7 linked regions of the Homo sapiens genome follow. The protein of the gene in region 6 purifies or fractionates together with the protein of the main gene of each other region. This does not show direct contact. Each region holds a gene or a part of one and is shown on either strand. Other genes may lie near its edges. The genes, in order: EPB41L1, GNAO1, CNTN1, MPP1, GAP43, MYH4 and DHX8.

The links.
Region 1: the proteins of MYH4 (region 6) and EPB41L1 purify together in Homo sapiens (affinity purification with mass spectrometry; one large-scale study listed by BioGRID and IntAct). This does not show direct contact.
Region 2: the proteins of MYH4 (region 6) and GNAO1 purify together in Homo sapiens (affinity purification with mass spectrometry; one large-scale study listed by BioGRID and IntAct). This does not show direct contact.
Region 3: the proteins of MYH4 (region 6) and CNTN1 purify together in Homo sapiens (affinity purification with mass spectrometry; one large-scale study listed by BioGRID and IntAct). This does not show direct contact.
Region 4: the proteins of MYH4 (region 6) and MPP1 purify together in Homo sapiens (affinity purification with mass spectrometry; one large-scale study listed by BioGRID and IntAct). This does not show direct contact.
Region 5: the proteins of MYH4 (region 6) and GAP43 purify together in Homo sapiens (affinity purification with mass spectrometry; one large-scale study listed by BioGRID and IntAct). This does not show direct contact.
Region 7: the proteins of MYH4 (region 6) and DHX8 purify together in Homo sapiens (co-immunoprecipitation; one large-scale study listed by IntAct). This does not show direct contact.

Annotation. Positions count from the first base shown.
Region 1 is NC_000020.11:36,189,240-36,192,739, reverse strand, and holds part of EPB41L1 (band 4.1-like protein 1), read right to left. Parts: intron 2,464-3,500; coding exon 2,366-2,463; intron 2,119-2,365; coding exon 1,943-2,118; intron 1-1,942. UniProt on the Homo sapiens protein: May function to confer stability and plasticity to neuronal membrane via multiple interactions, including the spectrin-actin-based cytoskeleton, integral membrane channels and membrane-associated guanylate kinases.
Region 2 is NC_000016.10:56,334,489-56,337,988, reverse strand, and holds part of GNAO1 (guanine nucleotide-binding protein G(o) subunit alpha), read right to left. Parts: intron 3,261-3,500; coding exon 3,132-3,260; intron 1,259-3,131; coding exon 1,129-1,258; intron 1-1,128. UniProt on the Homo sapiens protein: Guanine nucleotide-binding proteins (G proteins) function as transducers downstream of G protein-coupled receptors (GPCRs) in numerous signaling cascades.
Region 3 is NC_000012.12:40,936,939-40,940,438, reverse strand, and holds part of CNTN1 (contactin-1 isoform 1 precursor), read right to left. Parts: intron 2,870-3,500; coding exon 2,752-2,869; intron 1,105-2,751; coding exon 954-1,104; intron 1-953. UniProt on the Homo sapiens protein: Contactins mediate cell surface interactions during nervous system development.
Region 4 is NC_000023.11:154,778,184-154,781,485, forward strand, and holds the end of MPP1 (55 kDa erythrocyte membrane protein), read right to left. Parts: intron 3,131-3,302; coding exon 3,056-3,130; intron 1,171-3,055; coding exon 994-1,170; 3' UTR 501-993; downstream 1-500. UniProt on the Homo sapiens protein: Essential regulator of neutrophil polarity. Regulates neutrophil polarization by regulating AKT1 phosphorylation through a mechanism that is independent of PIK3CG activity.
Region 5 is NC_000003.12:115,679,010-115,682,509, reverse strand, and holds part of GAP43 (neuromodulin), read right to left. Parts: intron 1-3,500. UniProt on the Homo sapiens protein: This protein is associated with nerve growth. It is a major component of the motile 'growth cones' that form the tips of elongating axons. Plays a role in axonal and dendritic filopodia induction.
Region 6 is NC_000017.11:10,466,760-10,470,714, forward strand, and holds the start of MYH4 (myosin-4), read right to left. Parts: upstream 2,801-3,955; 5' UTR 2,778-2,800; intron 2,578-2,777; 5' UTR 2,529-2,577; intron 185-2,528; exon of another isoform or gene 26-184; 5' UTR 1-25. UniProt on the Homo sapiens protein: Muscle contraction.
Region 7 is NC_000017.11:43,514,975-43,518,474, reverse strand, and holds part of DHX8 (ATP-dependent RNA helicase DHX8), read right to left. Parts: intron 1,309-3,500; coding exon 1,153-1,308; intron 644-1,152; exon of another isoform or gene 413-643; intron 1-412.

The sequences.
Region 1 (3,500 bases), on a different chromosome or scaffold from region 6:
CTATGAGCTCCTCAAAGGAAAGGACCAAACCTATTCACTCTAAATACTATACCCAGGACCCAACACAAGGCCTGGCACACATATAACACTCAGAAAATATAAGTAGAACTAACTTGCCTGGAGGCCTGCCCCAAGGTGTTCTGGGAGTATCCACGGTTTCCCTACCCAAGTCCCCACTTTCCACCTTTTTTTTTTTTTTTTTTTTTTTGAGACGGAGTCTTGCTCTGTCACCAGGCTAGAGTACAGTGGCGGTGCAATCTTGGCTCACTGCAACCTTCATCTCCCGGGTTCAAGTGATTCTCCTGCCTGAGCTCCCGAGTAGCTGGGACTACAGGCGCCTGCCACCATGCCTGGCTAATCTTTGTATTTTTAGTAGAGACGAGGTTTCACCATGTTGGCCAGGATGGTCTTGATCTCTGGACCTCGTGATCCACCTGCCTTGGCTTCCCGAAGTGTTGGGATTATAGGTGTGAGCCACTGTGCCTGGCCTTTTTATTTTTTATTTTTTTTATTTTTTTTGAGATGGAGTCTCGCTTTGTTGCCCAGGCTGGAATGCAATGGTGTGAGCTCACTGCAACCTCTGCCTCCCAGGTCCAAGCAATTCTCCTGTTTCAGCCTCCCGAGTAGCTGAGATTACAGGTGCATGCCACCACGCCCGGCTAATTTTTGTATTTTTAGTAGAGATGGGGTTTCATCATATTGGTCAGGCTGGTCTCGAACTCCTGACCTCAGGTGATCTGCCCGCCTTGGCCTCCCAAAGTGCTGGGATTACAGGCATGAGTCACCATGCCCAGCCCCCACTTCCCACCTTTAAGCCACTCTCTACAAACCTAAAAACAATAATGATGGGTACAATTTCTTAAGGTGCTACTATGTGCCACAGAATATTTTCTAGGCATGATCTCATTTAGTTTTCCCTAGAACACAGCAAAGTAGGTACTATGTATTTTGTAGAAGAGGAAATAGGCTCAGGGAGTTAAATAAGTTGCTTAAGGTCACCCATCCATTCATTCAGATATTTATGAACCACTTCCAGTGTCCAGAGAACAGCCCACGGTGACTGTCAAGCCGAGATTTGAACTCAGATCTGCATAATTCTGAATCTCCCCAGTGACCCATGTGACTTCCGAACATCACCTACAAACTCTAGTGTGTACATCCTGGGGAGAGACTTGGGCCCTGAAGGGTGCTGATTTAGTAGGTCTGGGGCAAAACCTGGGAATTTTCGTGCTTGCTTAACAATCTCACAGGCGACTCTGATGAAACGTGGTTTGTGCACCACATTTTAAGCCCTATCTGCTTGCTACAGGACTATATAGGGCCAGTTTTCATTGATGTTAAGGGCACCCATCAATCCAATAGAAATGGGGACAGTGGAGAGTGCCATGTGGTTAGATTGTCAATCAGCCCAGAACCTAGTAGAACCAAAAGAATGACCAAGAACGATGCCCTGGCCTCCCAGCAGATAAGGCATCATCAGCTCCACACTGCAGTCATAAGACACTATTCTCCTAGTATGATGATGACCAGTGTAAGGGACACCAGCCTGCAGCAGAGGGATGCAGGGGAGGAGGGTGAATCAGACCTGCACTGCCAGGCCCAAGGTTAGACCACAGGTTAGACTGGTGGATTGCTAAGCTTCTTGGGTAGGTGGCCCAAACCATATGGCTAAACCTGGGACCCCAAAAGACCACGACTCAGGGAAGTTGTGGGGAATCCAGAGAGTGGTAGTATCACATCTCAAGTGGGAGTGAGCTCTAGGTTGGGACTAAGCCACCAAGAGCTGCCCAGGGACAGCACTGGTCTTGAGGGGCCAGCCTGGTGCAGATGAACTTGGGATGCATCTACCATTTTCCTGCTCATTCTGCAGAACCCAGCATGCCCACTCCCCCAGTTCCCTCTGAAGACCATTCCCCGCCCAGCCCTCCAATTTGGGCCATACCTCCATCAAGGCTGCGGGACATGGTGTACCGTTTGCTGGAAGAACGCTCAAAGAAGGGTGCAGGCCGGTCAATGAGGGCGCTGGCCTGGCGAGTCTGTGCCTGGGTCCTCCCACTGTACCGGAACTTGGAGCCCATCACCAGGAAGCCCTTGGGTGGGGGCTCAGGGGACACCAGCCTGCAGCAGAGGGATGCAGGGGAGGAGGAGGAATCAGACCTGCACTGCCAGGCCCAAGGTTAGACCACAGCTGGCCTTTCATCCCACTACTCCACCAACTACAACAATTCAAAGTGGTCCAGGAAGGGAGGGACTTGGGGAAAGGGTGGAGGACTTTCCTAGAGTTCTCACTAACTCCTCCCCCTGCTCCCCTCCATACACATGGCCTCTGCCCCATCCCCATTACCCCATCCAAGGTCAGGCTCACCGGAAGAATGTATGATGCTCGATGCAGACCTTCCACAGTCTCTTGGCTGACCGGTGGTTTGGGAGCTTAAAGCCAATTGTGCTCTCAAATTGCTCATACTGGAAAACCAAAAGGGCAGGTTAGAGGCAGGGCCTGAGCTCACTCTCGCCACTAGCCCATTCTTTGTGTTTTTTATTTTATTTGTTTAATGTTTTTTTGAGACACAGGGTCTCGATCATTTGCCCAGGGTGGAGTACAGTGGCGCAATCATAGCTCACTGTAACCTTGAATTCCTGGGCTCAAGAGATCCTCCTGCCTCAGCCTCCCAAGTAGCCAGGACTACAGTCAGACGACACCACACCAGCTAATTTTTTGTAGAGAATGAGTCTCACTATGTTGCCTAGGCTGGTCTCCAACTCCTGGGCTCAAGCAGTCCTCCCACCTCAGCCTCCCAAAATGCTGGGATTACAGACGTGAGTCATTCTTTCTGAACTCTTCTCAGGCATCTGCGACTTTGGCCTGTTCATTCACTGAATCAATAAGGGTGATTGAGCCCTTACTCTGTGACGGGTCCAGTGCTAAACACTAGAGATACATGGAGACCAAGGCAGAAGATTCTAGTAGGGGAAGGGGACCTCCAATAACAAATAAGCAAACAAGATAATTGCAGACACTGATCAGGGCTACAAGGGGAATGAAGGGAGATGTGTGGTGCAGCAGAACTGGGAAGGCATAGGGGCTCCTGTCATCTAAGGAAGAGCAGGGGATCCCCTCTAGACCTAGATCTAGGTGATCTTGAGCTGACATTTGAAGAATGGGAAGGAACCAGCTATGTGAGAAGCGAGAGGGGGAGATACTTTCAGGTAAAGGAAACATCAAATGCGAAGCACTCAGGCAGGAAAGAGCTCGACTTATTCAAAGATCTCAAGGCCGAAGAGGCTAAAGCACCTTGGGCATGGGGCAGTGTGGCAAGGGATAGGTGGGAGAGGTAGGTGGCCATGGAAGGAGTTTGAAGTTTAGCTCAAGAGCTAAAGAGAGTTCCTGAAAGGTGTAAGCAAGGGTGTGGATGGGAAGGGGGAGTGGGCTTGCCATGATCTGATTTAAGGGACTTTTTAAGATCTCTCCAGCAGCTATGAGGAAAATGACCTGGAGAGCA
Region 2 (3,500 bases), on a different chromosome or scaffold from region 6:
TCCAACCTCAAACCCTCGGTGCCAGCCTTCAGAGGCGTGGGGTGGGGGATTTGCATGTGTTCCAGACAGAAGGAGATGACAGACGCCAGGCTGTGACCCCATAGCCTATGGGCCCCGCTGTCAGGAGTGTTGGGGCTTGTCTCCAGTGACCCTGTGGGCCATGCTCGGTGCCTGGCGGGCTGCAGCCCAGAAGGGGACCACGCAGTGGACCTGCAGGCTCAGGGCAATCACCAGCAACTGTACAACCACCAGCTTGGCGCTGCTGTCCCAGAAACAGCTCCAGAGCGCTGCACACGCATCACCCACCCCACTGCCAACAGCCCCCCACAGGCAGGTACTATTATTATCTCCCTTTTATGGAAAATAGTAACTGAGCCAGAAAGGGTGCTGCCTAAATTCAGCAGCAAGCCAGTGAGTAGCAGAGCCAGGACTAGACCCAGAGGAAGGCTGCACTCTCCCAGGGGAATGTCCCCTCACTGAGGCCCTAGGCTGAATGTGACGCAAGACAGAAGGTAGGAGCCTGGTCTGGCATTTGGCAAAGGAGCCCAGAGCCACGACTGTCACTCACCAGCATGCCTCATCCCCATTGCCCTTCCTGGCCCATCAGCCCCACACACTGCTCCCCAGCACCCCCAACCCCACGCAACTCTCCTGCAGCATCCTGGGCCCTCCCCACCTCTCCCTCAGCATCCCCGGCCCCATGCTGCTTCAGCAGCATCTGACGCCAGTGCCCCAGGGATGGCTGTCAGGCTAAGACTGCTATTTCTGTTGCCTGTACATTCTTGCTTGGCTGCCTCCTGGTTTTTTTAGGGTTTGCTTAAATTTGCTATGGCCTGATGGCCTCTGTGACTCCACCAAGTTTATGGAAGAGGCACATTCTGCACGGCTCTGTGTGATCAGGTTGCATACACAGGCTCTGCCACACTGGCATCATGAGGCATTTGCCTTGGCAATACAGAATTGGTGGAGTGCCGGCACGGCCTGTCCATGATGGAAACCTCTAACCACAACAGCTGGCTGGACCCCAGAGCCATTGTGGGCACCCGAGGCCCAGTGCTCAGAGGGCTGGCCTATCCTGCGGCCGTCTCCTCAGCGCTGCCCCCTGCCCGGGGGGCCCAGGCCACTCACCGTGGTTTCGTCTTCGTGGAGCACCTGGTCATAGCCGCTGAGCGCGACACAGAAAATGATGGCCGTGACGTCCTCGAAGCAATGGATCCACTTCTTGCGTTCAGATCGCTGGCCTCCGACGTCAAACAGCCTGTAGGAGGCAGGGAGCTGGTAGGCGCAGGGTCCAGGCAGGTGAGGGCTGCCTGGGGATTAAGCTGTGAGCACGCTGAGAGGCAGAGGATGGGGGCCATGGTGCTCAGAGCCTTGCTAAAAGCCCTCACTAGAAGACCTTGTCACTCCAGGTGATGACAGACAGCTGGATCACTGCCATCCCCAGGCACTACCCCTGGAGTCTGTCCTGGGACTGGCTGTGCTCACAGATCATGACTCAAAGACCTGCCCTTGCATCTGAGGAGCATTTTACTAAGAGGGCGCACCTGAGCCACCCCCAGGAAGTGCCTCTGAGAGTCCTCCTCGCATGAGGACCCTCCTCTCAGTCTATTCCTTCCTGGGTTTGCTCTGGGCAAACTCCAAACCAGCCTGGGAGGGAGGCAGGCAGGAGATGTCACCTGTTATGTGGATGGCAGAAGTGAGCCACCCATGGGCTTAGGACATGCCCAAGCTGGCGAGAGTCCAGCTGTGGTGGAGCTGGGTCTGGCTGTGGACAAAGCTGGCGCTCTCACCTCTGCCCAGTACGGCCCCTTTCTGGCAGATCAGAGCCTGGCCTCTTCCCCCTCTCAGACTCTACTCCCGAGGGGGCACAAAAATTCTGGAAGAGACTGTGGGCAGGTGGGACTTACGTCCTGGAAGTAAAAGGTCAGTCTCCCACCCCAATCCCCAGAGCGAGGAGTCCTGTAGCCTCCTAGATCTGGGATGCCTGCTGACACACAGCCTGCCAGAGGGGGACAGGGAAGGATCTCTGGTCCCACCGGACACAACGGAGTGACTGCAGGCAGAGATTAGTGTGGGCTCAGAGCAAGGAATGGGTCTGGTTCTCATTCCATCAATCAGGGGATCCTCCCCTGGATCCCACCTCCCCATCTGAAATGCAGGGGCGTTGGCAGATGGCCTCTGTGGCCCCTCCAGAATGCTTATTCTCAGACCCCGCCTTGCTGGGCTGGGTTGAGCTGAGATCCCCATCCTGTGCTCCCAGTGGGGGAGCAGGAGAGACCAAGGAGCCTGGGAAGGCAAGAGAGGCCCCTCAGGGCTGCTCTGCCCAAGGTTTTGCTCCCCAGATCTGCGGAGGCCTAGGGGTTCCTGGGCCCAGAGCCTCGGCCCCTCAGTCTGAACAGGAGCGGGCAGGAGTTGGGGACATGGGAGGCAGGGAATATTAGAATCCAGCTCTCCCAGCAGGGGTCCCTGCCCTCCCCTTCTCTGCTGGCCTCTCTTCCCCACAGGACGGAGCAGGCCTCAGTGCACGCATGTTACTGCAGGTGGGGACACAGCGCTGCAGCAGGACCCTGGGAACCAGCTCACCCGTCAGGCCCCTGCTCTGAGGCCCCAGAGCCCCTGGGTTCTAGCTGTGCTCTGTGCCTGGGAAAAGCCCTGCTCTTGTCAGGCCTCAGCTTCCCAAGCGTACTAGGAGAGGGTGGGTCAGCTCTCTCTGCTCCTTCCAGCTCTGGGATTACTTGGGTCCTCAGGGTCTCACAGAGGTAGCTTGGGCTTACCCAGCCCCACTCTTGGCTCCTCCCCCCAAGGTGACCTTGGAAGGGCCCCCTGGTAGCCCACCTCCTCCTCCTCCTTGGAAGTCACCTCAGGGACAGGCTGCCCCTCCTTGTCCAAATCCTCCCTGTTCCTCACAGCCCCACTCTGGGAATCTTCTTCCAGAAAGCCTCCCTGCTCACTCCAGCCCCTAACCTTGGCAGAAACACAGACAGGTTCCTTCTAGTATCTAGCTGCCTGCCCCAGCCCGCAGGTTCCCTGGGGCAGGATGATGTTTGGGCGCTGTAAACGCAATGCGCTGAGAGGCTGGGCATGTCCCATCTTAGCCCTCGCCAGGGCCTGGGGGCCTCTCTGGGCCTCACCTGAAGTGGAGGTTCTTGAATGTGAAGTGGGTTTCTACGATGCCAGTGGTTTTGACCCTGGTTCGGAGGATGTCCTGCTCGGTGGGCTGGTAGTCGGCGGCCCCAATCCGATCCAGGCTGTCCAGGTAGCTGAGGATGGCAACAAACAGGGGACTATGGACCAAATGCCTGGACACTGTTCGGGACTGGCCAGGCCACCCATCTTCAGAGTCCAGTCTCGGTCAGGGCCCCTCCAGGTCACTGTGGAAAAGACATCACCTCCATTCCAGGCCATAGGGAGTGGGGGCGACTGAGGAAGTGGGTCTTAGGGGTCTTGGCCTCACGCACTCATTCACAGCCAAAAGGGCTACGCATGCAGCTCCCGGGACA
Region 3 (3,500 bases), on a different chromosome or scaffold from region 6:
CCTCCCTTGTTTAAGACTTTAAACAGATTTATATTACTCTTAGATGAAGCCCAAGCCCCTTAGCATAGAAAACTTTGTCATTTATGATGTGGCTTACTATGTCTCATCTCTTAAAAGTCTCCTCCATTTTCCTCTAAAGACAAATCACACTGATTTCAGTTTCTGCAATTTCTTACACATTCTAAACTCCTCACCATAGGGCCTTTGTACATGCTGCCCTCACATTCACATACACCCTCACATACACCCTCACATACACCCTCAAGCCAACCCACACATCCCATCCCTCCCATTTCCCATCCTGGCTTTCTCCTCGTCATAATTTTTGCACTCAATATTACTTCTTCTAGGATACATATAAACTATTCAGTGTGGCTTTTATACAAATAATCTATATAAGTTGTACACTGCTTTTTCATTTTGTCCCCAAACCACCAAAACATTGGTAGATGGTCCATTTATAAGGAAGATGATGATAACATCTTGTTCATTTTGAGATAGGAAGAGATTATTTGCACTTTGAAATCACCTTTTTATTTTTCTACAAAAATATTTAATAGGCTAACTGCACAAAATTCAGTTGAATATGAATGGATATAGATGCCAGATGCCTATACTGGGGAAAAATATGTTAGAGAGATCCTACTTTATTTCCCATTGTTTATTAGCTGTGTGACATTGGGCAATTTATAACAACAAGACAACAAAAAAACACCTCTGAGCTTCAATTTTCTAAATTCCTTATACATTATAGAGTCCTGTTAATTAAACCTTCATTATAATAGATACTGACAGGGATAGGTATTTCTGTCCATCTTAGAACTACAGGATCTTCTGTGAAAAAAAAAATTCAGAGCAAAAAACATTTTCATTATTAACATATAAACAAGTCTTCTATAAAATAAACTTTTTCAAACAGATTTTGCAATTGGATTTCTAGTTTCAGCACTGACCTGCTGCTATTGACAAGCCACTCTGTCCCTTTACTCCATGAAAACTTTGGTTTCGGTGCAGCTTTAGGTTTGCATTCAATTATCACCCTTCCACCTTTAGCAGCCAGGATCTTTTTCTTCATAGGATTCATTTCAAAAGTTGGAGCCAACGCTAAAAAGAAAACAAATTGTTATCTTTCTCTTTCTGTTTGTAAAGCCTAAACATTGCTTCTGTGTTGTAGAATCTTTTATTCTCCTTAATAGTTAATGGAAAGGATTAATCTCGGTAAATATGATCAGCTGTCACCAATAGGCATTCTATACCTAATGCTTTGTAACTTTTATTTAATAACTTTGACTTATAAAATTCACCCAATTCAAATGTACAATTCTTGATGATAACTGAATTGATTATTAGAAACTTTAATTAGAATCCAGGCATGGGTGGCTCACACCTATAATCCCAGCAGTTTCAGAGGCTGAGGTGGGCAGATGGCTTACCCAGGAGTTTGAGAGCAGACTGGGTAACACGGCAAAACTCCATCTCTACCTAAAATACAAAAAAATTAGCTGGGCATGTTGGTGCATGCCTGTAGTCCCAGCTATCCAGGAGGCTGAGGTGGAGGATCACCTGAACCTAGAAGGTCAAGGCTGCAGTGAAGCGTGATCGCCTCACTGCACTCCAGGCTGGGCAACACCGTGAGACCCTGTCTCAATAAATAAATAACTTCAATTTCAATCAAATGTTTTATACACATTTACCTTAAAATTAACTCTGAATTCTGTTGCTTTGACTCAATTCCACAAGGAAAGTAAAGTGAAAGGCTGGAAAAAATTGACCAGCATTATACACACTGACATATGGTCCTAGTCAATCCTCTAAACCACATGTTGAATGAACTATTCCCAGTTTATAAATGAGAAAATTGAAATCTATTAGGATTATTTAATTTGGCAAAGGTACCACAGGTAGTAATAAGTGGGAGTCACATTTGAATCTAGGTCCTTCTGTTTCCAAAGCATGTACTTTTCATTAAACAATGCAGTCTCTCCTTCTTTATACAATTACTGAGCATCATCTGTATGCAAACACCCTGCAAAATGCCAAAATAATTGGAGTCCTGCTTTCAGGATCTATCTATAAACAGCTATGGGAATAATGGATCTAATCAACTAATTAAGGAGACATGATCATTTGTAGTTCATCATTACCTCCAAGTACAGAGCAATAATTATTAGAACAGAATACAGAGGCTTAAAAAAGGTTACTTCATTGATGTCATGCTCAGACTTTCCTCAGCATCCACACATTTAATCCACTGCTCACTCTCCTCTTCCCTTGGCAGACTCCAAGCAGATTTCATCCATATATTTCAACACATTACAATCATCCGTAACTATGTACTTTCTGGAGGCTTTTCTAGGCCTAAGCATATCTTCATCTGGGTTTTGACTCTTCATCCTCTGGTCTGGTCATTCTCAAAATTATCTTTGTATTAAAATCATCTGGGTATCTTTTTAAAGTGTCCATTCAGTAGGTCTGGGGTGAGCCTGGGATTCTGCACTTCTAATGTGCTCCTAGGTATGGCCACTGCTGCTGATGCTCTGAAGAAGACTTTTGTTGTGGCAAAGATTCATTCTATTCCATTGTTTCGTTAGTCTGAATTATGATAATTAGCAATAAATAAATCAGTAAACAACCAACATATGTTGTACACCTAACACAATACTGGGTATTTTGTGTAGGCTCAATAAACATTTTGTGTGATATGACATATTGCTTTAACAATGTTTAACAGAAATTAGAAATGATACTGACCCAAGATCTTCAACTCAGCATTTGCATAAATGGCTCCATATGTGTTTTCAGCTATGCACTGATACATTCCGGCATTTTCAAAAGTCACATCATACAGTCTTAATTCCCCTTTATGATACTGAAAAGAATAAAATTGAAACATATTCTCAATGAACTTTAATAGAAATACTTTCACTTAGGTCTGGGTTTGGTTGTCTTTTCATTTAGATACATTATGTTCATCTGCCCCCACTGTTACCTAAGATGAACTGAGTGGGATTTTCATGGCATGGGAAAGGAAAACCCACTTACCATGCCCAAAGGCTCTTGTTCTATTCATCCTACAGAGCTGAGAGTCCACCTTTTCCCCTCTTGGACCAGCTGGGAGATTACAGTGGGAAGGTAGAGAAGAATCCCACTGCTGCTACTTGTCCCCAGGGCCAAAGGTAGGACTTAGAGCTTCACTCTTACCTCTGTCTCTGTGGGGTACAGGAAAATAGTGGCAAGAAAAAGAGGACAATATCAGGTATTGGAGATGGATGAGTAGGAAGAGGGTGGAAAAGTGGAACAAAGGAAAAAAATAAGGAGAGAGAGAGAGAGAAGGTAGAGTAAGATTACAGAAAGTTGTTTAAACTGAAAGAAGATACTTTATGTTCAGTTTTTGTCTTTTTTAGGAAGCTTTTATATTTCAGGGCCCAAGTGCCCTTTCTGTATTGTCTCTCCTGCTAAATTTATCCCAGGACTACCCTGAAACACTGCTTGAACAGGGA
Region 4 (3,302 bases), on a different chromosome or scaffold from region 6:
GCTGAGGCAGGAGAATCCCCTGGAACCTGGGAGGTGGAGGTTGCAGTGAGCCGAGATCCTGCCACTGCACTCCAGCCTGGCAAAACAGACTGTCTCAAAAAAAAAAAAAAAAAAAAAAAAAAAAAAGCGCTCTTGGATGCAGCGAGGCGAGGCCCTGAGCTGTAGCCATATCATGAGCCAGGCATGCAGGGTGGGCCCCAGCCCTGGCTCAGCGACCGGCCTCCACTGTACCACGGGACCCCAGGCTTGGATTTTCTCTCGTTCTAAATATGTGCCCACAATGAGCGCTCCACTAGCTACAACAACCTTAAGGGTGTTTTTCTACATGGGCACTAGCCAGTAGAGCCCTGCAGTGGGGGCAGAGAATGGGGACTCTTCCAGGGCACCAGTGTTTATCATCTGAACACAAGAGAGGCATCTTGTGTTAATGCTGTTGTCCAGGAGCTTAAGTGAAATGGGCCACATTTCTTTTTGTGTGGAAACCCAGAGTTACAAGGTCATTGGCATTTCAACACAGCATTTTTATTGCTTTTGAAGGTTTCCCTAGAGCAGACATCATTCTATTGCACAGATGTGTCATTTTGGCATTATAGAAAGTTGCAGTTAAAAACGCTTTCTCCAAAATAAAAAGACAAATGAAATACCCAGCATATACAGTTGAAGGCAAAGGAGGGCAGGCTTTAGAGGGATGGGGTCCATTGCTTTTGCTGTGCATCACCCTTGATTAGCAGTTACATTTTGGTAGTACTTCTTACCCCCAATTTCTAGAAATCCTTTTCAAATCCAGATCAGTGGGGCCCCATCTATCAGGAGAATCAACCCTTCAGGAGCCTGAGCAAGAAGACTGAACCTTACTGGCTGAATTAGGATAGCTGCAGAGAGCTGGAAGCTGACACAAAACTAGTTGGAGCAGCCCTGTTTGTCTTAAAGCAAGGCGGGTGGAATTCCAAATGCTGGAGAGGGGCATACAGTGGGTTCCCCCATTCTACAAGCTTAGTAAACCCAGGAGACAGGCACCCACTGTGGAGAACTGCACGCTTGGTCGAAGGCTTCTTGTAATTTCTTAAGGGTTTCATCAACACCATTATTGACCAGTGAGAGGTCAAAGTAGTGAGCGTACTGGCTGCGGATGGCCTCAGAGTCCTTCTGCAGCTGCTGCAGGGCTTCTGTCTGCAAAGAAGAAAGCCACAGATGAAGCAAGCTGCACCACCCCCAGCCCAGAGAGGCCAGTGACAGATTTTAAACAGCAATTGTTAGCGTTGCTCAGCTGTGCATCATACTTGACGAGTCAAATTCAGAAGACATTGTGAAAGAATGTTAATGTAGGGCATGAAGAGGCAATCTCAAAAGACCATGGCAATTCTCAGAGGATCTCAAGCTAACCCTGACTAATCAGAGTCCTCTGGAGGACCAATAGCTATGCAGAGACAGCATGGACTTCACCAGCATCTCCCACTTAATGCCCTTTGAACATGGAAGAGCCATTTCAACAACCACCAGAGCTGCAATCCTAAAACGAAGATAAAGGTGATTTTGTTGTTTTGTTTTGTTTTGAGACAGTGTCTTGCTCTGTGGCCCAGGCTGGAGTGCAGTGGCACAATCTCGGCTCACTGCAACCTCCGCCTCCCGGGTTCAAGCAATTCTCGTGTCTCAGCCTCCCGAGTAGCTGGGATTACAGGCATGCGCCACCACATCTGGCTAATTTTTGTATTTTTAGTAGAGACAGGGTTTTGCCATGTTGGCCAGGCTGGTCTGGAACTTTAGACCTCAGGTGATCCGCCCGCCTCGGCCTCTCAAAGTGCTGGGATTACAGGTGTGAGCCACTGCACCCAGTCAGATAAAGGTGACTTCTAATCCCAGATCACACCTGTAATCCCAGCACTTTGGAAGGCCAAGGCAGGATGATTGCTTGAGCACAGGAGTTCAAGACCAGCCTGGCAACACAGTGAGACCCCATTTCTACAAAAAACAAAATTTAAAAATGTGTGTGTATATATATCTCAGGACTCTGTCTTTGACCTAAAACCAAGCAGCCATGAAAGACAAATCATGTAACTACATAAAAGTAAAAATGTCTGCATAGCAAAAAGACATGCCAAATTGGAAAAAAATTGCAGCTGATATTACAAAGGGCTAATTACCCTAATATAGACTTCCTATAAATCAAAGGTCAATAACTCAGCAGAAAAATGAGCTAAGGGTATGACCAGATAATTCTCAGAAAAGGCAATACAAATTGCTCTTCATATGAAAAAGTACCTGATCATCTCTTTTAGTAAAAAAGAAATATGAGATACTATTTTTCCCTCCAGTAGACTGGCAAAAAAAGAAAATTTTGACAACATGCTGCAGGCAAAGAGAAACAAGCAGTCTCACAGGTGGTTGGCGGTCCCTGTCCAAATTCTAAGTGTGTGTGCTCTTGGACCCAGTGATCCTACTTGGAGTTTTTCCTACAGATATATTTGCACACATGTGCTATATGCACAGGGCTATTGACTGCAGTATTACACATGCATGCAGCAGAAGACCAAGCAGCTATAGAGAAAAAGAGTTCCTCACACCCTGATAGGGAAAGGTGTCCATTGTTCAATGCAAAAGCACAGTGCAGCAAAGTGCATGGGTAGGGCTGGGCAGAGGAGCAGGGTAGGCTTTTTGATATATTCCTGGCCTCTCTGTCTTTCCCCACAGCCATACTGCACCCCAGGGCGGGTTCAGTGCCACCTCTGTCCATCACAGCTTCCCCTGCCAGAGCCTGCATCCCACCAGTATCAGGATCTGCTCAACTGTCCATCTCTGCCCCTGGAACTGTGTGCCTCCAGGACGATGACTGGGTCTGGTTTGTTTTGTCCCTGTTAGGTAGCATGGGCACTGGCCTAGCTAGTGGCTTAAGAGCTGGAACGAATGTGCATACCCTTTGGCTTCTTGGCCCTGGAGGAAGAAGCCCAGCTGGAGCTGTGACCTCCAGCCAGCACTCTGGCCAATGACCTGGACTGAGGTCCCAGTATGGGCAGGCCCGGAGAAAGTGAACTACCCATCGCGCACAACCTCTCCTCACCTGAGTGCCCTGGTCAGTAGGTGCAATGAACACAATGAAAGGCGAAAGTTCTGCTGTCCGAACAATTTTCAGGGTCTAGAAAAAAAAAAGAAGGGCGGCGGGGAGGGGGGGGAAGGAAGAAAAGGAAAGTGAAAAAAAAAAACCTACATAGCTGTCATAATGGATTCCTTCTAATAAGCAGCTTTGAGCTTTACCCCAATACAACTTTCCATCATTCCCAGTACTACTGTTCTTGTTCCAGGCTGAC
Region 5 (3,500 bases), on a different chromosome or scaffold from region 6:
TTCTTTAATATTTTAGTTATAAAGGTACCAGATCCTTTGGAAATGCACTTGCCAAAGGGGGGTAGACCTAAGCAAGAATATAAAAAAGATACTGATTCTGATAAGCTAAACTTAGGGTAGCAATTGCCTACAATAAATAAAATGACTTTCATCTGATTGAGATATGAAAATTTCCATTTCTAGTTTTCAGATCCTCCTGGCATAACTGATGTATTTGATGGAGTCAGTAATACATCTGTTAAGAACAATCATTTTCAGCTGATCTTTATAGCTCTCTCAGGTCTAATAAAACAGTACTTGGAGCATTTTTGAAATAAGAATCTAAGACTCAGAAACAGTTTAATATCCCTAATAATTCTGGGGTGATAGGGCTGTGAGGGAATTATGATCAGGAATTATAGTAGTTACTAGACACCCATCTGTAAATGCTATCCCTAATAATTCCCAGACAAGAGTCTGGAATATCCAATTATCCAAAGAAGAGAGATGTTCTTATATTATAACACATTGTTGGGGTCCTTAGACATTCCTCTCCTCTTTGTTTCTTCCAGAATAGCACTTGGATAAGTGTCAGGGTTCAGCATGTGACCTCTCAGACTCTCAGGGTTTGGCTTCTGGTTCAACATTGCTAGCTGTCAACAATGATTAAGTCCCATAGTCTCCCTAAAGCTAAGATTTCTCCTTGTAAAAAGGGAAGGGAAAATTACACTACTACATTACTACCACAGAGTGGTTATGATGATTAAATGGAACAATCCCCACATAGCACTCAGCACAGGACCTGGCAGTTAATAAATGCTCATTAAGTGCTACCTATTATTAGACTTTTATATGTTAACTCTTGAAAGAAAACCTTAAAAACCAACTATCGTAGTCCCTTTTCCTAAGGATGAGATGAATGAGGTCCAGAGAAGCAATAACTTGCCTAAAATCTGGTTGGTAGAAATACTGAGACTAGAACCCTGGTCTCTTTATTTCAGTTCAAAGATCTTTTCCCTGCATTATATTACAAGGCAGGTAGGACAGAGAATATCCTAGTAAGGTCCTGGTTGGTATTTCCCAAAAGCATCAGATCACAACAACAGCTAAGATAAAAAAGAAAATGCAGAAACTGAGACAAAACATAACACCTTAATAGAGAGAAAGAACTGTAGGGCTACAGTTAAGGTGAGGATTTAGAGTTCAATCAGTTTGATCCTCATTTTGTCACTGGCTGTATTTGTGGCCAGAATATCCATTTACTTTGTCCCTATTCTTGGAATATAAAAATAGAAAGAAAAATATTATCAAATGACATTGGGCTGTTGTCAAGAAAAGCCAATAAAAATGATTACTCTAGCAATATAAAAGTGCTCCATAAAAGCTTAATAATCAACAGTATTTAAGAGGTATACCACTGAGTATCTGACAGGGTGCCCATGTTTTATAAACAGCATTTATGGACTTCCACAACCAAAATTTTCATTCTTTGTGAGTTGTGTATAAATTTAGGAAGTGGTTGAAACCACATTTCAAATCAAAGCCGCTCACGAGGCACCCTGCCAAATAAGTGTAAATATCCTTGGAAAATCTCACATCTAACACACAGCTTGGTAGAAGTGGACCTATCTTTTGGAAAGCTGAAAAATAGATGGTTACCTTGGGTCTTAGGGAAAATATTGTTCTGGGAAACATAAATAATTTTTTAAATTCAGAAATATGAGCTGGGTATTTCATTTTCTTATACACAATTATCATTCTAGAAATTCTAAATTTTGCATCTATTCTTTTCGTTAATAATTTGAGTATCAGGACATACATTATATGCAACGTTTTTATAGTAAGCAGCAGACTGCATCTTAGCCCCTGAAGCACTGCCTCATTCATATTTTGTCCAAAGTGCATTGGCATAGGGAAGTGCCCTGTACCTAACTGCAGAATTTAATTGAGATTATGAATATGATTGTTTTCAATGTCATTCCCTGAATTTCATACTACCCCCATACCAAGTAAGAATTCATTAAGGTCAAAAGAGTACATCTTGTTTTTGTTTTGGTTTGGTTTACTTTTTCTGAGACAGGGTCTCACTCTGTCACCCAGGCTGGAGTACAATGGCACACAATAATGGCTCACTGCAGCCTTGACCTCCCGGGCTCAGGTGATCTTCCTGCCTCAACCTCCAGAGTGGCTGGGACCTCAGGCACACACCACCACACTCTGCTAATTATTTATTATTTGTAGAGATGGGGTCTCCTTCTGTTGCCCAGGCTGGTCTCAAACTCCTGGACTCAAGTCCTCCTGCCTCGGTCTCCCAAAGTGCTGGGATTACAGGCATGAGCCACCGCACCTGGACAAAAAATCATATCTTATTCATCTTTGTGACTCCAATACCTAGCACAGAAGAAAGTTAATATAAAGGGAAGGGAAAAAGAAAGGAAGAATAGAAAAGAAGGAGACAGAATGGGAAGGAAGGAGGGAGGAAGGAAGGATAAAAAAGAGGAGGAAGAGAAGCAGGGAGACACTAAGTTAATTTTTCTATTCAGGGAATGGCAATAGGAAACTCCTCCCTCTTTTCTTGATCATTACTGATGGCATCAATTTGCAAGATGTACTGAGACCATGAAAATAAAATGCAGCCAAGATCAACATACAGAACATTTAAAGTCACTCAGAGCTACACTTCCAACTAGCATCAGTCAAAGACCCTGTGGCAGCCACCCAATCAATATCACTGATTGATAGCCCTCTGGATAGGTTACCTTGGTTGTACCACATCACTGAATATGACCACAGCAGAGTCCTCTACTGGGGAAAATCAATAGGCTACCATGGAGAAGAGGAGACGTAAGAGAGAATTCCTTCATTGAGAGCCAATGAGCACAGTGACACTGCTCAGCAGGAGACCCCAAGGATATAATCACTAAAGGGGGCTTCAAAGTTCTCTACTCATGACTGAATGGGGCAGTGTCCCACAGATGTTTTGAACACTCCTCTTCCTCTAAAGGAATCATTGTCAGAGGTGCGCTGAAATGTTTTGGTCCCAGGCACGTAAAAAGCTGGGCAGGCAGCGTGGCAAACTAGGGAGAGGTGGACATACTTGGAGAATTTAAAACAATGACAATAACCAACCAACTTCAAAGATCAAAATACAAATGACATCCCCCCATAACAAACAGGTTGGTAGTAAATAGTAAAAGAAGTAAAATAAATAACATTTATAGTTCCCCCAACATTTCCATAGGTATTAAAGTAATAATCATATCTAAAATTTTTAAGCCTGATATTCACAGAAATTATTTTCTTAGATTTTCTCTTTGTACCTATTTTTCCCCTTAACCCTGTTGCACCCTCTTAGATTGTCTGTCCACGCCCCTCCAGGCAGCTGTAGAATCCTAAAGCAACCCATGGTAGCCACCCATTTCCGAACAGTACAGCCCAGTGGAAGATGCTGCTACTTTAACCCAGGTTAAAATGAAATACAGTGGAAGGCAGAGGAAATGCAGTACAGGGCACCTGGGAAT
Region 6 (3,955 bases):
GATGGCAGTACTGGACTAGGTATACCTAGAGGAAGAAACAGAGCCAAATGATGATTCAGGGTTGGGGTGGAGAATTGTTCTGTTGATTTCATATTAATGTGCTTAATTTTCCATGCTTGTTTCCTCACCCCTGCCTTTAGGGACCACTCCTGTATACTATGTCAAGGAGCTGAGAGATCAGCTCATTGATTTGAAAGCACTATGTTGATAGCTTAATTTTTGTGATACTTTAAGCCTAAGTTCCATCCTCTATGTTGTAAACCTTAGTTGAGAAATGTGGAGGAATCAACATTCAATCAGCAACATTTGTGATGCTCCAAGCATGTTCAGAATTTTTTCTTTTTCTTGCTACTTTTCTTTTCTTTCTTATTTCCAACTTCCCCCTCTTAACATCGTGATGATACAAAGAAATGGACAATAACTGTTTCCACTGGCTTTACAATATAAATGAACCTGTCTTAAAAACTCAAATACAGATCTTTATGCAAATTTTCCTCTCATCCCAAATTATTAAAATTGGATGTCAGATTTACTAAAATTGAATGTAGACAGATACACCTGTTCTTTCCGGACATAAGTCCAGATCTAATCATTACAAATAAACACCTAGTTAACTGACAGGTATTAGGTAAGTAAAGGAAAAAATAACTACAATGAAAGCTGAATATCCAACATATAATTTTGCCCTAAGTTAAAATTAAAATCTCCTTTATTAGTTTTGAAATTGTTTGAAAGTCAGAAGTAGTATCTAAACCAAAAACAACTTTAAAAGATTCTTGGAGAAAAGGAACTTCTTAATTTTTAATAAAATTTTATAGTGATTGTATGTGTTGATCTGTATTTCTCTTTGTTTTTAGTTGGATTTCAACCTAACATATTTTAAAATCTGATTCTTATTTTCTTAGGTTTATAATCTCGTTCTTTCTTCTCCTCTTTTTAAAAATACCAACCAGTCTTCTAAATATTTTTCTGAAATGGATAGCCAGTATAAAGTTTCAAGCCAAAATGAACTTAAAAAATTTTCCCTACTGACAAATTAATTATGAGAAAATAAAATAAGTCCTGCTGTCCTGATGGCAAGGACAGGGTGAGTGGCCAGAATAAAAGAAGGTGACCTCTGTGGAGCAGAAGTGTCTTGGTTGCCAATGACAATGACAGCAATGATGGCGACAACAGCAATAGCCACCACCTTCTGTAGGCTTTCCAGAGTCTTGATCTTTTGTCATCAGCATTAACTTTCCCTCAACTTAAAATGTTAGCTATGGAATTTCCACATACTCTATTTTCAAAATCAGTCTTATCTGTAAAAGTGTCCTGATGACACTGTGAAACTTAGACATATTTTCAGGGGATATATATTGGAACATTTAATGTCAGGTTTTTTTTCTTTGAAGAAGAAATGTTATTTATATTACATTATATTTTGTTTCTGTGTTTGTTTTTACACCAGGCAACTTGAATTAACAACACACTACCACGTGGAGGTTACTATAATGCAGTGTATCCAGGAAACACAGAAAGATGATTGCTACCCTTCCCATCTCCTGTCTTATTATAGATTAATTGTTTCCCAACTTGGGGATCAAGCCCCAATAGAGCCTCAGGTTGTTGCAGGGGGTTCTTGAATCCACCCACACAGTGATCATTGCCTCAAGTTTAAGGAAGGAACATTTCCACATGAACAGTGTTTTCTGTTCTTTTCTAAATGAATATAGCTGCTATGTTAAATATAAACTCATTTAAAATAATTCTTAAGTGTAGAATAGGTTTTCATGATTATATATATCCTTAACATCATACTAAAAGTACATGTCTCCACATGAACAATTAGCAGGATTCCATTAGTTTTGATTCTCCATTAGCAGGGTTCCATTAAATGTTTTGATTCTGTGGAGGAGTCCTTGAAAACCACTGACGTCAATCACAGTTGGCAAGAGCTGGAAGGACCTTAGCAGTCAATAGAATCCAGCCTCCTCGTTTACTGATGAGGAAACTAAGGCCTAGAAAGGTTCAGGGTCATTCAGTGTCATAGTGGTGGGTGATAAGTGGCGGTACTGGGACATGAGTCCTGTTCCGCTAAATGCAGGTTTGTTAATTCCACTTGCAACACACTGTATTTCAAGATACATAAAGGCTAACTGGCTTGACCCAGGCAAATAGAATCAGTGAAAAGCCTGGATTGGCACCTAGAAATATCGACTTCCAGATAAACACACCTTGATTTTATCATGCGGTCTCTCTGATATATCTTTATGGGTTAAGTTGGAGTAGTAGTTCACATTAAATATTACATATGATGGCTGCATTCTTTCTGTAGTTCTAACAACATGTGAAAGAGAAGTTTCATTAAGTTTTGTTTGATTAAGTGGCCTGAAAAGTCAAAATTTTATGAGAAGGCATTTTTAAAGAACAGCTGCCCCGATATCCTATTCCCAATACTAAACTAGGAAATAAAATGGTAGCTCATTAAGATGTAGCAATATAGAGATTCCTTTGTTCTTTAGAGTGTAATAATAAATTATTCTTACCTCTTGTATTATCAGATGAAGAAGGTGGCAGGCTCAAAGCAGACAACTACTGTTGAAAGAAAAAAGAGAATGTGGGATGCTTTTTTTTCCCCATTTAATCACAAAATACTAGTAACTATATTGTCTACAATGTCGTCCTTAAGAATGTTGGAAAGAATAATTAAAATTTGGGAAGCAGTAGACATCCCTTAAATGAAAAATCATCATCATCAGGAATGTAAAAGTAAGTGTTCTTCCACATATACATACCTTCAAGAATTTTGAGGAAGGATGGGAAAGAGGCATCTCAGCTCCACTTTTATAGAGACCATTCTGCAAACACAGCAGCCACCTCAGCTGTCCTAGCTGGGAACCTACTTGGCAAAACCGTTTTTGGCAATCTCTTTGCACAATATTCACTGACTGTGGCTGTGAATGGATATAATTAGAAATATTTCTTGACACCCATAAATAATTTAACAGAGGATGATCTAGGGTTCTTTATAGGCATTTGATAGGGGATGGGGATTCAGGGCTTCTAACACTGTTTCTCCAGTTTGGCTGTTGCATCATTCATCACAGAATTCAAAGCCAGATTCCCACTTACTCCTCTGCCTATAAAATTGGTCCAACAGAATGAGTCTGATGTGAGGAATTTAGGATTAATTAATTTGTTGGTTCTTAGAGCCATTAAGGAGTCTGGAATGAATTTTAGACCTGACACTATGATTGGAAGCAGTGAGCGATGGATTTTAAGACAACATTCCTAGCCACAGTCTGGATTTTAGAAAGACTGGCGATAGATTCTTTTAAAGTCTGAAAGTCTAAATATGAAGGTGAAAGTGAATTCTCAGATTAGGCAGTGGTGATGGACCACTGGGGGAGGCATAAGGGATTTAGAATAGATATAAACACTTCTGTTCTTTTTCTGGAGGACTTTCCATGGATATCTCCAGCTTGTATGTTTTCACTGAAGGAACAACAGGATGCTGTGTGATGTTCCATGCATGTTTCCTCTGCATAATGGAAGGAGACACAAACATGCATTCCTAGTTCATGGGCAGACTCTCATGACTAGCTATAGCTCTAATGAGGTGGGAACCACATATTTTTATTTAAGGTGGGAGGAAAGTCATGGTATCCACGATATTCTCCCTGTGGATTGAAAAGATGGATGGGCCATCACATATGCCCATAATACTCATAAATTGGCTTTTGATGGTTTTGCTACATACACAGCTGTTACTGAATATGGCAGGAAATATACCTACTCTAAGTGTGACCCTAACTGAGCTCTGGTGAGATATTTTCAACTATCATTAGCTGGCTTAAATTACCAATTAATGAGATCACTGTTTTTATAATTCTGTTGACTTAGAATTTATCTTTGACACATTGATAGATTGAATCTTTTATACTTTAAAAATTTATTTTGATAAAATTCTATG
Region 7 (3,500 bases), about 33 Mb from region 6:
AGGATATGGCCCCTGCTTTCAGAGAGTTCACACTGGGTAAAAACTATGTTCACAAAACCACCACAGTGCAATCTACATGCCTGGCATGTAGCATGTGTTCAATACATTAGCTAATTCGATGAATAAAAGAAACGACTGAATGATGCACGATTCAAGTGTATATAAAGTGTGATGTGGTAGGACCTAAGCTTTCTATTTCTTTCTCATAAAGTGATTGTGACCATAAACACAGCAGGTGTTCAATAAATGTTTATTGTGTGAATAATAACTATGATGAATTATGTTAGCAATCATCAAGCACTGTGCCAAGTGCCTTTACCTACATTATCTCACTTATCTTTCCAACAAATACTATTAACAGCCCCTTTTTCAGAGCAGAACACAGAGCAGAGGGCAAAGTAAATAAACTTGCCCAAAGTCGCAGTTTGGAGCTGAAGTCCAAGCCACAGATGCCTCTCTGTTGGCACTTCAGAGACTGGAGTAGGTTTCTTTTTTCTTTCCAAAGCTCTGTTTTAGCCTCTTTGACAGGGAATAAATAATAAATGACAACAGAGCACTCTGCACCAGAAAGTACCAGGGCTCCAGGGTAGCATCAGTGTCGGGGGAAACGCCATCAGCTGGGAAATTACTCATACAGCTCCTCCTGCCAAAAGAGAATGAAGTCCTCACTGGGGACTGAGAGAGGAAGAACAATGATTCAGAATGAAAACCAAGCCCCTGAGAGCCAGTCTGAAATCTGTACTGACAGTTCCCTTGCAAAGTTTTTGAACAGGGGGTTTTCTCTCGTTCTAAAAGAACAGAATTGGATCTGAGCGCTAAAGTGGTTGAGGTTAGGTGTGTGTGTCCACAGTTTGGCATTGATTATATTTTTCTAATTTCCTTTTAGAAAATGCTCCTAACTAGAACCTTTTACAACCTAATATCCTGCTGGTTGTTATGGTAAGAAAAAATGTGTGTTCACAGCAGACATGCCAACTTAGCCCCAGACCTGCCGTGAGAGGCTGTTATCACAGCCATTTGCATTTCACTCAAAGGGACTGCTTTCATGAGGTTACTAAAGTATTTAACAAGGTTCATAAAACTGAAATTCATTTATGAAGGCCAGGATTGGACTGTTCCACCAACCCATTTTAACAAGACAGTGATTTCTACCTTGAGTGACAGCACTGTGCTTGCTAAGTTGGTTCTCTGGATTTCCGGCACGTTGGTGGTCAGCATTTCATCTCGGTAGGCACGTTCTGTGTACAACCTGTAACACTTCCCTGGGCCTGTTCTCCCAGCTCTGCCAGCTCGTTGCTTTGCCTGAGCCTAGAGGGGTGGGCATATAAAAGCAACATATCTGTTAAACACTGCTTAACAGCTTTACCCAGGATATCTGTTAAAAGGGGGACAATTAACAACTGGCAAAATCAGAAATGGGGTTGATTTCACTTCCTTTGGGACCATTTCCAAGACTACCAATGCTCTTATCTTCCCCTCTCCATACTCAGCACTTCGGGGAAGTTTGTTCGAGGGAGGCAATACAAGCAGGGTTAATGGAAGAAATATTATACAGATCTGAGACATATATCTTCAAAATAGTGTGGCGCAATATAAAAGAGAAAGCATAAAACAAGATGACAGAACACCATCCCCACAGTTATGACCAAAAATGTAAGTGAAATAAACATATTACGTCAATCATCCCAATGATGACTCTGCAGTCATTTTAAAAATTATGTTTGCAGGCCAAGCGTCGTGGCTTATGCCTATAATCCCAGCACTTTGGGAGGCCAAGGTGGGCAGATTGCATGAGCCCAGGAGTTCGAGATCAGCCAGGGCAATATGTTGAAACTTCATCTCTACAAAAAATACAAAAATTAGCTTGGTGTGGTGGCTCACGCCTGTAGTCCCAGTATTCAGGAGGCTCAGATGGGACGATCACCTGAGCCTGGGGAGGTCGAGGCTGGCTGCAGTAAGCCGTAATCACACCACTGCACTACAGCCTGGGCAACAACAAAGACTGATCCTGACTCAAAATAAAATAAAAAATAAAAATAAAAATCATGTTTGCAATGTTAAATGACAGAAGAAAATGTTCATTCGCATTAAATGCAAAATGCAAGTTACGAAACAATGTAAAATAATTTTAGTAAAAGTCTTTATATATCAACTACTAGAAGGAAATGACTAGGCGAAAAAAACCCTAAAATGTTAACAGTGGCTAACTCTGATAGTAGGCTTGCAGATGAGGTCTATTTTCTTTAGATTTTACCAAATATTGAACATGTATTATTCTAATAGGAAAATTAAATACTCAAAAAAATATACAAAACTGCATACTTACTTGACTACTAAAATTGCAACCATGAAAGAAATAAACATGAAAAAAGACTGGAATGAAAAACAGCAAAATAATAACAGTGGAGGTAGTAGGATGGTGGGTAAATTTTTTTCTTCTGTTTTTCAAAAATAATAAAACACTACTTCAAAAACACTGATTTTTTTTTAATTAAAAAAAATGTAGTTTAGCCATAGGTTGCTAGGAAACAATGAATAGCAATCTGAAGAGGGCCATTTTCTGACAAAACCATCTGTTGTTACAAACAGTACCAGGATTTACAAATTACTATGCCAGCTCCAAACCAAAGGATAGGTTATGAAAGGACAACTAACCACACAAATCCAGGCAGCAATCACACACAGTGGCTGGACTCTACAGCATTCTACACATGTCTCTCTCCAAATCAGGACAGGCATGTGTAACTAATTTTTTGATCACCGCCACCCTGACAAGTAGTATAGAGCATACAAGCTGGAGCCAGGCTACCCAGGTTCAAATCTTGGCTCCACTAGCTCTGTGATGTTAGGCAAATCACCTAACCCCTCTGTGCCTCAGGTTCCTCATCTGTGAAAATAATATCTACCACATAGGATCAATGCGAGAATGCACCAAGTCAATGCATGTATCTAGGACGTTAAGTACACTGTAAGTGTTAGCTATTATTGGGCCAGGCGCGGTGGCTTATGCCTGTAATCCCAGCACTTTGGAAGGCTGAGGCGGGTGGATCATGTGGTCAGGAGATGGAGACCATCCTGGCTAAGACAGTGAAACCCCATCTCTACCAAAAATACAAAAATTAGGTGGTCATGGCGGCATGCGCCTGTAGTCCCAGCTACTTGGGAGGCTGAGGCAGAGGAATCACTTGAACCCAGGAGGCCGAGGTTGCAGTGAGCTGAGATTGCACCACTGCACTCCAAACTGGGCGACAGAGCAAGGCCCCATCTCAAAAAACAAAACAAAACAAAAAGTGTTAGCTATTATTATTACTTAAGTTTCAAAATAAAAATAGCCTTAAGGCTTTCACAAATTATGAAAGTAATACATACCCACTGTAAAAGATTAAGACAACATATAAAAGTATAAAAGAAAATGCACATCATCTAGTAGCACCACCCATAAATAATCTTGGCTAACATTTAGACTACATGCTTTCAATCTTGGGCACAGCTCACTCACA